Homo sapiens: one gene and its partner. Each later gene encodes a partner of the first gene's protein in a complex. Each region holds a gene or a part of one and is shown on either strand. Other genes may lie near its edges.

Region 1 (7,498 bases):
CTAAAGCAAAAAAAGAAGATGGCTATGTCGGTGAAGCTCTATGGAACTGGGGATCAGGAGGCCTGGCAGAAAGGAGTCCTGTTTGCTTCTGGGCAGAACTTGGCATGATGGAGACGCCAGCCAGCGAGATGATGCCAACCAGATTTGCCGAAATTATTGAGAAGAATCTCAAAAGCGCTAGTAGTAAACCGAGTTTCATATCAGACCCAGGTCTTGGATTGAGGAACAGGCAATGGGATCATTCCTCAGTGTGGCCAAAGGATCTGACGAGCCCTCAGTCTTCTTGGAAATTCACTACATAGGCAGCCCCAATGCAGACAAACCACCCCTTGTTTGTTGGGAAAGGAATTACCTTTGACAGTGGTGGTATCTCCATCAAGGCTTCTGCAAATATGGACCTCATGAGGGCCGACATGGGAGGAGCTACAACTATATGCTCAGCCATTGTGTCTGCTGCAAATCTCAGTTTGCCCATTAATATTATAGGTCTGGCCCCTCTGTGAAAACATGCCCAGCGGCAAGGCCAACAAGCTGGGGGATGTTGTTAGAGCCAGGAACAGGAAGACCATCCAGGTTGGTAACACTGATGCTGAGGGGAGGCTCATACTGGCTGATGCGCTCTGTTACGTGCACACATTTAACCCGAAGGTCATCCTCAATGCCACCACCTTAACAGGTGTCATAGATGTAGCTTTGGGGTCAGGTGCCACTGGGGTCTTTACCAATTCATCCTGGCTCTGGAACAAGCTCTTCGAGGCCAGCATTGAAACAGGGGACCGTGTCTGGAGGATGCCTCTCTTCAAACATTGTACAAGACAGGTTGTAGATTGCCAGCTGGCTGATGTTAACAACATTGGAAAATATAGATCTGCGGGAGCATGTACATCTGCGGCATTCCTGAAAGAATTCGTGACTCATCCTAAGTGGGCACATTTAGACATAGCAGGTGTGATGACCAACAAAGATGAGGTTCCCTATCTATGGAAAGGCATGACCGGGAGGCCCACAAGGACTCTCATAGAGTTCTTACTTCGTTTCAGTCAAGACAATGCTTAGTTCAGATACTCAAAAATGTCTTCACTCTATCTTAAATTGGACAGTTGAAGTTAAAAGGTTTTTGAATGAATGGATGAAAATATTTTAAAGGAGGCAATTTATATTTAAAAATGTAGAACACAATGAAATTTTTATGCCTTGATTTTTTTTTCATTTTACACAAAGATTTATATATTTTTTTTTTGAGACGGAGTCTCACTCTGTCACCCAGGCTGGAGTGCAGGTGGCATGATCTCAGCTCACTGCAACCTCCGCCTCCTAGGTTCAAGCGATTCTCCCACCTCAGCCACCTGAATACCTGGGACTACAGGTGCCCACCACCATGCCCGGCTGATTTTTGTATTTTTAATGGAGACGGGGTTTCACCATATTGGCCAGGCTGGTCTCAAAACTCCTGACCCTGTGATCTGCCCGCCTCGGCCTCCCAAAGTGCTGGGATTACAGGCGTAAGCCACCACGCCCGGCCAGTATATATTTTTAATTGAGAAGCAAAATTGTACTTCAGATTTGTGATGCTAGGAACATGAGCAAACTGAAAATTACTAACCACTTGTCAGAAACAATAAATCCAACTTTTTGTGCAAAAAAAAAAATACAAATATTAGCTGGGCATGGTGGTGCATGCCTGTAATCCCAGCTACTCGGGAGGCTGAGGCAGAATTGCTTGAACCTGGGAGGCGGAGACTGCAGTGAGCTGAGATTGTGCCACTGCTGACTTTGTCTCAAAAAACAAAACAAAACAAAAAAACAAAATGAAAACAAAAAGCCAGGGCTGCCTCTGCTCAATAATGTTCTATCTTTGTTCCGCCTCTTCTCTGGGGTCTCACTTCTTGGGAGCCTGTGTGAAGGTGAATTCCTCTGAAAGCTGACTGCCCCTATTTGGGACTCCCCAGTCTCTTTCTGAGAAATGGTGACATTGTTCCCAGCACTTCCTCTCCCTTCCTAGGCAGCTTCTGCAGCCACCACTGAGCCTTCCTCACATCCTCCTTCTTCAGGCTTGGGCTTTCCACCTTTCACCATTCCCCTACCCCATGCTGCTCCACCGCACTCTGGGGAGGGGGCTGGACTGGGCACTCTTGTCCCCCAGGCTGAGCCTCCCTCCATCCCTATGCTGCCTGCTTCCCAGGAACATGCTTGGGCAGCAGGCTGTGGCTCTGATTGGCTTTCTGGCCGTCAGGAACATGTCCCAACATGTTGAGCTCTGGCATAGAAGAGGCTGGTGGCTATTTTGTCCTTGGGCTGCCTGTTTTCAGGTGAGGAAGGGGATGGTAGGAGACAGGAGACCTCTAAAGACCCCAGGTAAACCTTAGCCTGTTACTCTGAACAGGGTATGTGATCTGCCAGCAGATCCTTGCGACAGGGCTGGGATCTGATGCATGTGTGCTTGTGTGAGTGTGTGCTGGGAGTCAGATTCTGTGTGTGACTTTTAACAGCCTGCTCCCTTGCCTTTTTCAGGGCAGAAGTCCTCCCTTAGAGTGTGTCTGGGTACACATTCAAGTGCATGGTTGCAAACTTTTTTTTTTAAAGCACTGAATAGTACTAGACACTTAGTAGGTACTTAAGAAATATTGAATGTCGTGGTGGTGGTGAGCTAGAAGTTATAAAAAAAATTCTTTCCCAAAAACAACAACAAAAAGAATTATTTCATTGTGAAGCTCAGTACCACAAAAATTTAAATAATTCATTACAAGCCTTTATTAAAAAAAATTTTCTCCCCAAAGTAAACAGACAGACAATGTCTAGTCTATTTGAAATGCCTGAAAGCAGAGGGGCTTCAAGGCAGTGGGAGAAGGTGCCTGTCCTCTGCTGGACATTTGACAACCAGCCCTTTGGATGGTTTGGATGTATAGGAGCGAAGGTGCAGACAGCAGTGGGGCTTAGAGTGGGGTCCTGAGGCTGTGCCGTGGCCTTTCTGGGGTTTAGCCACAATCCTGGCCTGACTCCAGGGCGAGGCAGGCCAAGGGGGTCTGCTACTGTGTCCTCCCACCCCTACCTGGGCTCCCATCCCCACAGCAGAGGAGAAAGAAGCCTGTCCTCCCCGAGGTCAGCTGCGTTAGAGGAAGAAGACTGGGCATGTCTGGGCAGAGATTTCCAGACTCTGAGCAGCCTGAGATGTCAGTAATTGTAGCTGCTCCAAGCCTGGGTTCTGTTTTTTAGTGGGATTTCTGTTCAGATGAACAATCCATCCTCTGCAATTTTTTAAAAGCAAAACTGCAAATGTTTCAGGCACAGAAAGGAGGCAAAGGTGAAGTCCAGGGGAGGTCAGGGGTGTGAGGTAGATGGGAGCGGATAGACACATCACTCATTTCTGTGTCTGTCAGAAGAACCAGTAGACACTTCCAGAATTGTCCTTTATTTATGTCATCTCCATAAACCATCTGCAAATGAGGGTTATTTGGCATTTTTGTCATTTTGGAGCCACAGAAATAAAGGATGACAAGCAGAGAGCCCCGGGCAGGAGGCAAAAGTCCTGTGTTCCAACTATAGTCATTTCTTTGCTGCATGATCTGAGTTAGGTCACCAGACTTCTCTGAGCCCCAGTTTCCCCAGCAGTGTATACGGGCTATGTGGGGAGTATTCAGGAGACAGACAACTCACTCGTCAAATCCTCCCCTTCCTGGCCAACAAAGCTGCTGCAACCACAGGGATTTCTTCTGTTCAGGTGAGTGTAGGGTGTAGGGAGATTGGTTCAATGTCCAATTCTTCTGTTTCCCTGGAGATCAGGTTGCCCTTTTTTGGTAGTCTCTCCAATTCCCTCCTTCCCGGAAGCATGTGACAATCAACAACTTTGTATACTTAAGTTCAGTGGACCTCAATTTCCTCATCTGTGAAATAAACGGGACTGAAAAATCATTCTGGCCTCAAGATGCTTTGTTGGGGTGTCTAGGTGCTCCAGGTGCTTCTGGGAGAGGTGACCTAGTGAGGGATCAGTGGGAATAGAGGTGATATTGTGGGGCTTTTCTGGAAATTGCAGAGAGGTGCATCGTTTTTATAATTTATGAATTTTTATGTATTAATGTCATCCTCCTGATCTTTTCAGCTGCATTGGGTAAATCCTTGCCTGCCAGAGTGGGTCAGCGGTGAGCCAGAAAGGGGGCTCATTCTAACAGTGCTGTGTCCTCCTGGAGAGTGCCAACTCATTCTCCAAGTAAAAAAAGCCAGATTTGTGGCTCACTTCGTGGGGAAATGTGTCCAGCGCACCAACGCAGGCGAGGGACTGGGGGAGGAGGGAAGTGCCCTCCTGCAGCACGCGAGGTTCCGGGACCGGCTGGCCTGCTGGAACTCGGCCAGGCTCAGCTGGCTCGGCGCTGGGCAGCCAGGAGCCTGGGCCCCGGGGAGGGCGGTCCCGGGCGGCGCGGTGGGCCGAGCGCGGGTCCCGCCTCCTTGAGGCGGGCCCGGGCGGGGCGGTTGTATATCAGGGCCGCGCTGAGCTGCGCCAGCTGAGGTGTGAGCAGCTGCCGAAGTCAGTTCCTTGTGGAGCCGGAGCTGGGCGCGGATTCGCCGAGGCACCGAGGCACTCAGAGGAGGTGAGAGAGCGGCGGCAGACAACAGGGGACCCCGGGCCGGCGGCCCAGAGCCGAGCCAAGCGTGCCCGCGTGTGTCCCTGCGTGTCCGCGAGGATGCGTGTTCGCGGGTGTGTGCTGCGTTCACAGGTGTTTCTGCGGCAGGTGAATGACGGGCGTGGGTCGGTGCGCGCTCGGCTTGCGCACACGGTGTCTCTAAGTGCGCGGGTGACGAGAGTCGGGATGTGCCGGAGACCCCGGGGCGGAGAGCGGGATTACAAGTACAGGAATCCCTGGTCACGCTCCCCGCCCCTGGAAACCCAGCTGGGGCGAGGGAGGGCGTGGACGGGACCGTTCTGGGAGCTCGCCTTTGGCTGCGGTTGGCTCCAGGCCCCAGGCGCAGTTTGCTCGCGGCGTGGGGATGAAGTCCGTGTCCCTGGAGGGGCCCAGGAAGGGCGAGGAAAGCGGAGTGGAGTAAGTTCGTCTAGGATCGGTCCCGGGTGGCTCTGGGATCCAATCTGCGCCGCCCTGGCCCAGGTCCCAGGTTCAGGTCCTTTACGCCACTGTGTCCACCACCTGGCTGAGCGCTGAGGTCAGCGCGGGCTGTTTCCTGGCCCTTGGGAATGTGCCAGGACCCGTCCCCTAAGGACTAGCGAGGAGGTGACTCACTGTGACAAGGAGACCCCAGGGAACGGACTGTATGAGGTCAGAACCCCGCCCGGGATGGGGTACAGCGGGACTCCAGAAGCCCTCTCCCCTGCCCCTTCGCGGTCTCCGTCCTCCCATCGGCACAGTGACCTATTTGGCTGGAACAGTTTGTTCCCAAGGAAGCCGGGCACTGGAGGTCCGGGACACCGCGTCGGGTCCCCGCTCCGCGGCGCGCTGTAGGGGTCGGGGAGTCACGGCCCTGCTCTGGGCGGGCTCTAACCAGCCTGTCAGTCGGGGAAGGGCAAGGGTCTCCTCTACCTCTTTCCCACCGCGGCCGGGAGAATCGCGGCCCAGCCTGTCCTCGGGTCGGGGCGCTGGACTCCGGGGCGGGAGCGGAGCCCACGCCTGGATGGGAGGCGGGGAGGGTTCATGTCTTTGAGGGGTGGGGGGTCTGGGGGGCACGACGCTGCTCAGGGCCTCTATCAGCTGCCTCGGGGGCTCAGGGCTTCCCGACCTAGCCCAGATTCCCTCTCCGAAAGCTACAGGGCTGAGCGGAGCAGGGGGGCGAGTCGCCCCCTGGGGCGCCGCCGCCTGGCGCGGACCACAGCGCGTCCTCTCCGTCCCAAACCCCTGGGGGACACTTGCGCCCTCTTCGTGAGGAAAAGCATCTTGGAGCTGGGTTAGGAACTTGGGGCGCCCAGGCAGCTTCCCCTCTCCTTGCCTCCCTCCACGTCGCGTTTCTGGGAGGACTTGCGAGCGGTTTTGTTTTCGTTGCTCCCGTCTATTTTTATTTTCCAGGGATCTGACTCATCCCGTGCTTTGGGCGTGGAGATAAGGTGGAGGGGCCGGCTCCCGGCGCGCGCGCGCGTGCGTGTCTGCGCGGGCGTGTGTGTGTGTGTGTGTGTGTGTGTGTGTGTGTGTGTCTGTGTCAGAGACGGCACAAGAGCGCGCGGTTTCCCAACAGCGGCGGGAGTTTCGGAAGCCTGGCCGGCTCAGCGTGACGTGTTCGCGGCCCCCCGGTCCCCTCCCATTCTCCCCCTCCCCACCCCAGGGTGACGCGCAGCCGGAGTGGAAGCAGTTTTGGCGGGCGAGCAGCGCCTTGCAGGAAACTGACTCATCACTACTCCCTCCAGCGGTCCGAGGCTCTGCCCACGCACCTCCCACTCCGCGCGTGATTTCCTGGAGGCCGGCGCCCCCTCCCGGCCCTGGCGGGAATAGCACACAGGCTTTCCCGCGGAGTGGGGCTGGCCGGCGCGAACCGCCGCGGCTACTCCTGGGCTCATCCGAGATCAACCCCTATGCCATTACCACCCCTTCAAAGGAGCACTCCTTAGGTTCAACAGTATTCACTGAGCTCTTACTGGAAATTAAAATATGGCTGAAGTCTAAGGCAGGAAGGCCAATAAAGGAGGCTATTTTTAATTGTTTCTAAAACAAGGGTTTGCGTTTCTGAGTTTTCTTTGGGCTGAAAGTTATTATGAGCATGAGAGCAGATTTTGATGGGGGAGGAGAGGCCTATGAGAGCCATAAGAGAAGGAGGGGTGGTAGAAGAGGAGAGGGTGCCTGCCTAGATCCTAGTCCTGTCTTGAACTCCCGAGAGCCAGGGAATATCCAGCACCTTGATGAAGCCCTAGGCGGGCGCCTCCTCCTTGTGCCTATGATGTATTGAGACCCAGAATGTCCATTTCAAACATACCAGTGTGTCTCCGCTTGGCTGGCAACCCAAGAGTGCCCATCTGAGGAATTGTGCCAAACACTTGCTTGAATCTTCAATCTGGATTAAGTTGGTCTCGGGAGGCAGGGCCTCAGCAATCTATATTTTGAAAAAACTCCCTAGGTGCTTTTCTTTCTTTCTTTTTTTCTTTCTTTCTTTCTTTCTTTCTTTCTTTCTTTCTTTCTTTCTTTCTTTCTTTTTCTTTCTTTCTTTCTTTTTCTTTCTTTTCTTTCTTTCTTTCTTTCTTTCTTTCTTTCTTTCTTTCTTTCTTCCTTTCTCTTTCTCTCTTTCTTTCTCTTTCTCTCTTTCTTTCTTTTCTTTCGACAGAGTTGCACTCTGTCACCCAGGCTGGAGTGCAATGGCACCATCCTGGACTCAAGTAGTCCTCCTGTTTCAGCCTCCCAAGTAACCGGGACCACAGGCGTGATCCCCCCGCCCCCATGCCCAGATTTTTTTTTTTTTTTTTTTTTTTTTGAGATGCGGTCTCGCTCTGTCACCCAGGCTGGAGTGCAGTGGCGTGATCTCGGCTCACTGCAAGCTCCGCCTCCCGGGTTCACGCCATTCTCCTGCCTCAGCC
Region 2 (4,103 bases), on another chromosome or scaffold:
TCTTGTGGCTCCAGAGACCAGGTGGGAGGTGGAGGCATTTGGTCCTGAGTGTCCTGACAGGTGATGGCAGCTCCCACATCTCGCTCAGGTTCAGAGGAGGCAGCATGGGCCGAGGGACAGTTTTTGGCTTAGTCTTGCTCTTATAAAGGCTTCCGGGTCATGGCACCTGGGAAGGGGCCCTCGCTGCAGGCCCCTTCTAAGGACCCCCTCTTCCCACCTCTCCCCACCCTCTCTCTCTCAGGACTGCCTCCGGGCCTGCCAGGAGCAGATCGAAGCCCTGCTGGAGTCAAGCCTGCGCCAGGCCCAGCAGAACATGGACCCCAAGGCCGCCGAGGAGGAGGAAGAGGAGGAGGAGGAGGTGGACCTGGCTTGCACACCCACCGACGTGCGGGACGTGGACATCTGAGGGCGCCAGGCAGGCGGGCGCCACCGCCACCCGCAGCGAGGGCGGAGCCGGCCCCAGGTGCTCCCCTGACAGTCCCTCCTCTCCGGAGCATTTTGATACCAGAAGGGAAAGCTTCATTCTCCTTGTTGTTGGTTGTTTTTTCCTTTGCTCTTTCCCCCTTCCATCTCTGACTTAAGCAAAAGAAAAAGATTACCCAAAAACTGTCTTTAAAAGAGAGAGAGAGAAAAAAAAAATAGTATTTGCATAACCCTGAGCGGTGGGGGAGGAGGGTTGTGCTACAGATGATAGAGGATTTTATACCCCAATAATCAACTCGTTTTTATATTAATGTACTTGTTTCTCTGTTGTAAGAATAGGCATTAACACAAAGGAGGCGTCTCGGGAGAGGATTAGGTTCCATCCTTTACGTGTTTAAAAAAAAGCATAAAAACATTTTAAAAACATAGAAAAATTCAGCAAACCATTTTTAAAGTAGAAGAGGGTTTTAGGTAGAAAAACATATTCTTGTGCTTTTCCTGATAAAGCACAGCTGTAGTGGGGTTCTAGGCATCTCTGTACTTTGCTTGCTCATATGCATGTAGTCACTTTATAAGTCATTGTATGTTATTATATTCCGTAGGTAGATGTGTAACCTCTTCACCTTATTCATGGCTGAAGTCACCTCTTGGTTACAGTAGCGTAGCGTGCCCGTGTGCATGTCCTTTGCGCCTGTGACCACCACCCCAACAAACCATCCAGTGACAAACCATCCAGTGGAGGTTTGTCGGGCACCAGCCAGCGTAGCAGGGTCGGGAAAGGCCACCTGTCCCACTCCTACGATACGCTACTATAAAGAGAAGACGAAATAGTGACATAATATATTCTATTTTTATACTCTTCCTATTTTTGTAGTGACCTGTTTATGAGATGCTGGTTTTCTACCCAACGGCCCTGCAGCCAGCTCACGTCCAGGTTCAACCCACAGCTACTTGGTTTGTGTTCTTCTTCATATTCTAAAACCATTCCATTTCCAAGCACTTTCAGTCCAATAGGTGTAGGAAATAGCGCTGTTTTTGTTGTGTGTGCAGGGAGGGCAGTTTTCTAATGGAATGGTTTGGGAATATCCATGTACTTGTTTGCAAGCAGGACTTTGAGGCAAGTGTGGGCCACTGTGGTGGCAGTGGAGGTGGGGTGTTTGGGAGGCTGCGTGCCAGTCAAGAAGAAAAAGGTTTGCATTCTCACATTGCCAGGATGATAAGTTCCTTTCCTTTTCTTTAAAGAAGTTGAAGTTTAGGAATCCTTTGGTGCCAACTGGTGTTTGAAAGTAGGGACCTCAGAGGTTTACCTAGAGAACAGGTGGTTTTTAAGGGTTATCTTAGATGTTTCACACCGGAAGGTTTTTAAACACTAAAATATATAATTTATAGTTAAGGCTAAAAAGTATATTTATTGCAGAGGATGTTCATAAGGCCAGTATGATTTATAAATGCAATCTCCCCTTGATTTAAACACACAGATACACACACACACACACACACACACAAACCTTCTGCCTTTGATGTTACAGATTTAATACAGTTTATTTTTAAAGATAGATCCTTTTATAGGTGAGAAAAAAACAATCTGGAAGAAAAAAACCACACAAAGACATTGATTCAGCCTGTTTGGCGTTTCCCAGAGTCATCTGATTGGACAGGCATGGGTGCAAGGAAAATTAGGGTACTCAACCTAAGTTCGGTTCCGATGAATTCTTATCCCCTGCCCCTTCCTTTAAAAAACTTAGTGACAAAATAGACAATTTGCACATCTTGGCTATGTAATTCTTGTAATTTTTATTTAGGAAGTGTTGAAGGGAGGTGGCAAGAGTGTGGAGGCTGACGTGTGAGGGAGGACAGGCGGGAGGAGGTGTGAGGAGGAGGCTCCCGAGGGGAAGGGGCGGTGCCCACACCGGGGACAGGCCGCAGCTCCATTTTCTTATTGCGCTGCTACCGTTGACTTCCAGGCACGGTTTGGAAATATTCACATCGCTTCTGTGTATCTCTTTCACATTGTTTGCTGCTATTGGAGGATCAGTTTTTTGTTTTACAATGTCATATACTGCCATGTACTAGTTTTAGTTTTCTCTTAGAACATTGTATTACAGATGCCTTTTTTGTAGTTTTTTTTTTTTTTATGTGATCAATTTTGACTTAATGTGATTACTGCTCTATTCCAAAAAGGTTGCTGTTTCACAATACCTCATGCTTCACTTAGCCATGGTGGACCCAGCGGGCAGGTTCTGCCTGCTTTGGCGGGCAGACACGCGGGCGCGATCCCACACAGGCTGGCGGGGGCCGGCCCCGAGGCCGCGTGCGTGAGAACCGCGCCGGTGTCCCCAGAGACCAGGCTGTGTCCCTCTTCTCTTCCCTGCGCCTGTGATGCTGGGCACTTCATCTGATCGGGGGCGTAGCATCATAGTAGTTTTTACAGCTGTGTTATTCTTTGCGTGTAGCTATGGAAGTTGCATAATTATTATTATTATTATTATAACAAGTGTGTCTTACGTGCCACCACGGCGTTGTACCTGTAGGACTCTCATTCGGGATGATTGGAATAGCTTCTGGAATTTGTTCAAGTTTTGGGTATGTTTAATCTGTTATGTACTAGTGTTCTGTTTGTTATTGTTTTGTTAATTACACCATAATGCTAATTTAAAGAGACTCCAAATCTCAATGAAGCCAGCTCACAGTGCTGTGTGCCCCGGTCACCTAGCAAGCTGCCGAACCAAAAGAATTTGCACCCCGCTGCGGGCCCACGTGGTTGGGGCCCTGCCCTGGCAGGGTCATCCTGTGCTCGGAGGCCATCTCGGGCACAGGCCCACCCCGCCCCACCCCTCCAGAACACGGCTCACGCTTACCTCAACCATCCTGGCTGCGGCGTCTGTCTGAACCACGCGGGGGCCTTGAGGGACGCTTTGTCTGTCGTGATGGGGCAAGGGCACAAGTCCTGGATGTTGTGTGTATCGAGAGGCCAAAGGCTGGTGGCAAGTGCACGGGGCACAGCGGAGTCTGTCCTGTGACGCGCAAGTCTGAGGGTCTGGGCGGCGGGCGGCTGGGTCTGTGCATTTCTGGTTGCACCGCGGCGCTTCCCAGCACCAACATGTAACCGGCATGTTTCCAGCAGAAGACAAAAAGACAAACATGAAAGTCTAGAAATAAAACTGGTAAAACCCCAGCGTGGTGCCTGCCTCTTTGCTTCCTGGGCTGGCCGTGAGCCAGGGACGCGTGTCCTGGTGCCCTAGAACCAGGGCAGGGTGGCAGGCTTGGCGGATGTGGGAGGCCGCAGCCTGTCCTGTGCGCTGTGGGAAGTTCAGCAGCATCCTGACCTCCATCCCCGGGATGACAGTCACGCCACCCGCCGTGACAACCAAGAATGTCTCCTGACACTGCCACATCCCCGGGGGTGGGGACAGAATCCAGCCAGGAGCAGGCACACCCCTCCCAACTGGGAGGAAGCCCTCAGCACAGGTGTGTGAGGTGGGAGGCGGTGTCCTGTCCCCGGGAGGCTCCAGAGAATAATTTGCAGGCTGCCTGGCTGGGTGAGCCCACCTCCAACCACGCGAGACAACAGCTCCGGCCTGGGTGACGTGAGCGGTGCCCATTGATGGGGAACATCTTCCCCCTCTTCCTTGCCCCACCAGTTTGTCTTCCCGGGTTATTTGCAGATAGGAAAATAAATA

What was found.
Region 2: the proteins of CDKN1A (region 1) and CCND1 are in contact, whole or in part, in a crystal structure (PDB 6P8H), measured with the Homo sapiens proteins. Residues at the interface, in NP_000380.1 of Homo sapiens: Ser15, Lys16, Ala17, Cys18, Arg19, Arg20, Leu21, Phe22, Gly23, Pro24, Val25, Ser27, Gln29, Leu30, Asp33, Cys34, Asp35, Leu37, Met38, Cys41; in NP_444284.1 of Homo sapiens: Met56, Ile59, Thr62, Trp63, Glu66, Val67, Glu70, Glu92, Lys95, Lys96, Ser97, Arg98, Leu99, Gln100, Leu101, Ile126, Tyr127, Thr128, Asp129, Ser131, Arg133, Glu136, Gln139, Met140, Leu142, Leu143, Asn146, Lys147.

The regions. Positions count from the first base shown.
Region 1 is NC_000006.12:36,674,216-36,681,713, forward strand, and holds the start of CDKN1A (cyclin-dependent kinase inhibitor 1), read left to right. Parts: upstream 1-4,498; 5' UTR 4,499-4,583; exon of another isoform or gene 4,584-4,724; intron 4,725-6,258; exon of another isoform or gene 6,259-6,644; intron 6,645-7,498. UniProt on the Homo sapiens protein: Plays an important role in controlling cell cycle progression and DNA damage-induced G2 arrest. Involved in p53/TP53 mediated inhibition of cellular proliferation in response to DNA damage.
Region 2 is NC_000011.10:69,650,877-69,654,979, forward strand, and holds the end of CCND1 (G1/S-specific cyclin-D1), read left to right. Parts: intron 1-241; coding exon 242-406; 3' UTR 407-3,598; downstream 3,599-4,103. UniProt on the Homo sapiens protein: Regulatory component of the cyclin D1-CDK4 (DC) complex that phosphorylates and inhibits members of the retinoblastoma (RB) protein family including RB1 and regulates the cell-cycle during G(1)/S transition.